Regions from separate parts of the Homo sapiens genome. Here region 2 is linked to region 1. Evidence: fine-mapped expression QTL. Tissue or cell type: lung. Region 1 holds a variant in brackets; the other region holds the start of a gene. All regions are shown on one strand. Distances are from middle to middle.

What was found. PIP is the estimated chance that this variant, and not a neighbour inherited with it, causes the effect.
Region 2: SLC24A3 starts here. The variant in region 1 is fine-mapped to the expression of SLC24A3 in lung (TOPMed, PIP above 0.99).

What each region holds. Positions count from the first base shown.
Region 1 is chr20:19,406,872-19,409,553 of GRCh38, forward strand. The region is part of intron 2 of SLC24A3 (solute carrier family 24 member 3); the gene reads left to right. Among named protein-coding and RNA genes, the nearest start is that of SLC24A3-AS1, 120 kb to the left of the region's middle. The variant T/G (reference allele first, on the strand shown) is at 1,209.
Region 2 is chr20:19,211,261-19,213,942 of GRCh38, forward strand. SLC24A3 (solute carrier family 24 member 3) reads left to right here and starts at 1,382. Exons shown (of 17, transcript NM_020689.4): 1 at 1,382-1,724. The coding sequence starts at 1,583. It overlaps LOC101929547 (a long non-coding RNA gene), which reads right to left and starts at 1,208. Exons shown (of 3, transcript XR_007067549.1): 1 at 369-1,208. RefSeq lists a silencer at 1,733-1,782.

The sequences.
Region 1 (2,682 bases):
GTACTAAGTTTCCAAGACACAAGTGTAATCCCTGGTGATGTGAAGGGAGGGGTCCAGTAAGAGAAGGCAGTTGACATGTGGTGCTGCCAGGTGTCTGTGACTAGCACAGACACATATCACTCACCAATCATGGCACTCTTTTCTGTTGATCTCTGACAACACGGTGAACCAGGTAGTTTCTACCAATCTGTGAGGTTGGGATCCAGAGGATATCAATTGACAATTACCAGAGGATCTGTTTCTGGAAACTGAGTAAGAAGATGGGATCTTGTTGGATGCATTAATCCAGAGACGATGGAGGCATCCAAGGACTGGAGCGCCTCCTTGTCACAGAGTCCACAAGCAGAGTGGTTGAGCATTCTGGGAGTGTATTTGGCAGCAGCAGCACTAAGAGGATGGCGGTAGGAGACCTTTGGATAGTTGGAAATGCCCTTCAGATGGAAAGCATTCGCCATCTTTAGTTTTTCTGTGTCCCGGTGCTGTGTCCTCATTCCTGTCTTCCTCCTGTGAGTTGAGAACGGGGCAGGTCGTGCTCTGATGCTGCAGCTCCTGCTGCTTCCAGTGTGAAGGGGCACCTGGCAGAGCAGAGCTGCCTTTCATGTCGGACACAGAGGAGGGAAAATAACAACAAAGTTTTCCTGCTTTAGAAGAGAACTGCAGGAAAGATGCAGCAGAGAGAGCTCTTCGTGGAGAATAAATGAATCACGGAAGTGTCTATTTTAGGAATCTTTACTCTTGATTAATCTCAGACATAGAAAGAAAAGAAAGGAAAACAAGTAGCCAAGAACAACAATAGTAATGATAGTTGTCATTTAAACTATGCCCTTCTTTTCCATGTTATATAGGTTCCCATTCTCCACCATATTGATGTCTGAATCTTTTATATTTTAGCAAGGACATATTGGCAATGGTCAGTCTCTATCATGGCGTCTGCATGCTAACCATGAAACCGCCACAGAAGAATTTGGCAGAAGGTGTCACTGAAATAGGAGTAAGTCCTTCTACTTCTTTCTGCATTCGTGGTGGTTGGGACACACCAAGGATGAAGGCTGCTACAGTTCTAAGGAAACCTTGTGGCTTTATGGGAGTAAACCTGTAAAACTGGTTCCTTCTCTGAACATTCTTTCTGTAACACTTAAAAAAATACCAACAGTTTGCAAAACGCTTCTAAGAATAGAAAAGAAGTCCTCCCTTACCTCAATAAAATG[T/G]GGGAATAAAATGTTGAGTACAAATGCCTTTGAACTCAGAAACTGGAGAATTTGTAATATTTTACTTTTGTCTGATTGTGAAACACATGCCTGTTCATTGGAGAAAAGTTGTAAAACACTAAAGTACCAAGTAAAAAATACTAATTATATCATTCAGATATACCATTAACATTTAGTATATTTGTTGTCATTAAAAATTCTATAAACATTTTTTTTAAATCTACATAATGCTTTGCCATTCCTAAGAGATTAACCCGTATAATAATTTTCCCCTTTTTCTAGTGAGGGTTTATTTTTGACATTAAAAATACTTTTTTTTTTTTTTTTTGAGACAGAGTCTCGCTCTGCCACCCAGCCTGGAGTGCAGTGGCATAATCTCAGCTTACTGCAGCCTCCACCTCCCAGGTTCAAGCGATTCTCCTGCCTCAGCCTCCCAAATAGCTGGGACTACTGGTGCACACCACTACTCCCGGCTAATTTTTGTATTTTTGGTAGAGACAGGGTTTCACCATGTTGGCCAAGCTGGTCTCGAACTTCTGGCCTAAAGTGATCCACCCACCTCAGCCTCCCAAAGTGCTGGGATTACAGGTGTCAGCCACCACACCCGGCCTAAAAATACTGTTCTGATGACCATCCTTGTGCCAAAATTGGTGTCTCCATTTTTGTCTATGTCATTAGGAGAGATTCCTAGAAGCAAAATACTGGTCAAAGGGTTATGGACAATTTAACACTCCTCTGGAAATAAAGGACATCCATATAATGTGGCAAATAATTTATAAAGCATTTCACCAGGGAAATGAGATTTGCCTTCATGTTTTCATTCATTCATTTGTTCATTCGGGAAACATTTATTGAGCTCCTGCTGTATGCTTTCACTGTTCTGGGCGCAAGAGACACAGGGATGCACATGAGAAATAGTTTGGCTAAAGGGAGAAGACGATCCAGAAACACATCAAAGCACCAGATATTATCAGGGAGAGTTCCGTGAAGAGCTCAGTGTTCTTGGGTCATGTTACTGAGTTGATTGGTGAGGAGGGAGACTTAGAGCTTCTTTAGATTGTAGATCCAGGAGGCCTCTCTGAGAAGGTGACTCATAGGCTGGGACTGAATTACAAGGAGACACCCTATGAAGACCAGGGAGAAGGAGGAGCCCTTCCCAGGAAGAGGCGCAGCAGGAGCAGAGGCCCTGCAGGGGACCTCTGTGCATGGGCGAGGGGAGGTGGAAACAGCTGCAGGGATAGTGGGTTCAGGAAGCAAAACATGAGTGCAGATGTTGACACTGAAGGGTCTAGAGGCAGGATGTTTCCCATCAGGTGAAGACCAGGGTGTGCAGCTTTTGGAGAGTATGCATGACCTGAGAAGGAGGAGAATGTTCTGTGCCGGATCAGACAAGTGAACTAGAAAAGGTTCTGAGCACCTTTGTGGATGAGCCACTGAGTCAGAAAGACTGCAGCACAATTATGCTCAAATGTCT
Region 2 (2,682 bases), 200 kb before region 1:
CTGATCTGAATGGATTCCATGGAGACAGTCACCTAGACAGACACCTGGTTTCAGGTGATCCCTTTCTGGACAAGGTCTTTTGTTTTCAGCGCCCCCCCACCCTCCGCCCCAACAATGGCATCTCCTCCTCAGCCCAGCCAGCAGCCCCAGGCTAGCATCTGGGAAGAGTCCAGGGAAGCCCAATGAGGGAGAGTGGGCTGTGTCTGGGATGGCCAGGGATCCCCTCCAAATGGGCACCTGCGGCAGGTCGTGAGTCCAGCCATCTCTAGGGCAGCCCACACCTTCAGCAAGGAGGGGCAGGAGACCTAGAATGGGGGAAATGGGAGGACTAAGATTCTAACGTTGGAGGTAGGGCAGGCTGGTGTTACCTGCACAAGGCCAGAAGCCTCTTCAGGCCGCCTCTCCAGGGACCGTGCCAGCTGTCCCCACTTCGATCAGCCACAGTATTGGACTTGGTCCAGCACGAACAGAAAGCGAAGTGTGAGCCCAAGACAGAGGGGGGAGCCGGACACCCTTATGGAACTAACAGCCTCTGGGGAGGCCTGTTCCAGATCCCGAGTCGGGCGCACAGGGGGATCCCCGCAAGGGGGCAGAGGGAAACCCGGGAGGCCCGCGAGAAGAGGCGAGGCCAGAGGCTGGGCGCGGGCAGCCAAGCGCACTCGCGGCGCCCCGACTCCAGGTAGCACGTAGAGAGGAGGCTGAAGAGCCCCTCGGTTTTCCGAAAGTTTCCAGCGAATCCTTCTTGGTGAAGATCGGCCTCTGGGAGGCAGCGTGTGTGCTTCCCGAGAGGGGGCCCCCTGCGCCGTCCCTCTTCCCCTGGCACAGAAGGGTTGAAGGACTGCACACAGGGATCCCTCCCCAGCCCAGTCTCCTCCCAGCGCGCCCCCTCCCCGCCATGCCGGCCAGCGCCGGGCTGTGTCCCAGGCACTGCCCCCCGCCAACCCTGGCCCGACCAGCCTCGCCGCTGCAGGCTGCCGGGAGCTGCGCTAGCTCATGCTCCCAGCTCGCTCGGTGCTCCCTGTTCGCTCCGGCCCGGCCCCGGCCCCCATCGCGCCGACCATGGAATAGGCGGGCGGCCCCGCGAGGCGCTCCTGCAGCCGGCGAGGCCAGAGCCAGTCCGGGGTGGCTTTGCCAACCGGCGGAGTTGGCCAGCGGCGGGCCCTCCTACCGTCGGTCCTTCCCCGCTCCTCCTCCTCTGCCCCCTCCGCCCCCGCCTCCCGGCCGCCCCCGCCGCCCCCGCCGCGCCGCCGCCCCAGGCCGAGCGCGGGCGCGGAGCGTGGGAGCCATGGCGCGCGAGGAGGAGCGGGACCCCGAGCGCCGGGAGGCGGCGGCGCGGGCGAGCGGCGAGGAGGAGGAGGAGGGAGGGGAGGAGGGACTGGGCGATAGCGACGAGGAGGGCGACGACGAGGAGACGGGCAGCGGCGAGGAGGAGGAAGAGGAGGCGGAGGCGGCGGCCGGGTGGGAGCGCAGCGAGGACGCGCGGCTGCTGCGCGCAGGGCTGCCTCCTGCCGCTGTCCCCGCCGCGGCCGCCCGCGACAGGAGCGGCCGCCGCCCGCCGAGGCCGCCGCCCGGCCGCCCGAGGATGCGGCCGTCCGGCGACGAGGACCGCGCGCGTCGCCGCCGCCGCCGCCGCCGCCGGAGGGACCTTCTGCTGAGCCAGCTCTGCTTCCTGGCCTCGGTGGCGCTGCTGCTCTGGTCGCTGTCGAGCCTGCGAGAGCAGAAGGGTGAGTGCACGCTGCCTGCCCCGAGTGGGCGCTGCGGCTCCGGCGGCTCGGGGCTCCCGGGGCTGGGCGCGGGGCTCCTTCGGGCGGCCCGGCCGGAGCCCCAGGATAAGCGGGCTGGGTTGGCGGGGGGAGTGGGATGCCAGGCACGAGGACTCCCCCTGCCCCACGCAGAGGCATGGAGGTGGGGACCCTGAGCGCCAGCAGCCAGCAGGCTTAGGCGTCTGGCCGCCCTGGGAACATTTACCTGTGCCCGCCTGTGCGCTGCTTACTCGCGAGCTGGAGGTACTGCTGGTGGCGGTGGTGGGGAGTCTTACTCTCCATCAGCCCCCAAGGCCAGGGATAAAGTTGTGGTGGTAGACCCGGCACCTGTGCAGGTGACCACCTGTATACTCCTTGGCTTGCTGAAGGATTCAAGGGGACTGCTTAACACACAGTTGTCCGTATGTTCTCCATCCAGAGAGCAGGCGGGATGGCCCGAGTAGAGAGCTCTTCAACCCCCTTTCAGAACAGGTGCCGGGAACTTCAGGGAGAGAAAAAGTGTTGGCCCTCCAGCTATGGGCTAGTAGGGGACTTGTTCTCCTAAAATGACCACTCACTGGGAAGACAGGGAATTCTTCCTCAGAGGTCCCTTTTGCAGAGCTGCTGCTGTGGAAGAAATGGTTTGCAGTGGACCACGCATCACACTGTCCGCTCCTCTACCGGTGCTCTGCGCAAAGTCTGCCCTTTAACCCACAACTTTTGTCTTGTCTTTGTCCTTGGCCTTTCTTGAGCTGAAATAGATCTTGTGTGCTCCCAACAGTTGTCTGCTGAAACAGCTTCGATCCTGGGATTCAGCTGTCTATAAAATGAAGGAAAAACATGGGAGAATAACTGTTGTAAAATGGTTTTATATCCCGGCCGTGGAAGTGGCACGATTAGTGGGAAAACAGCCATGTAAAGGGTTGTGAGAAAGAAACAA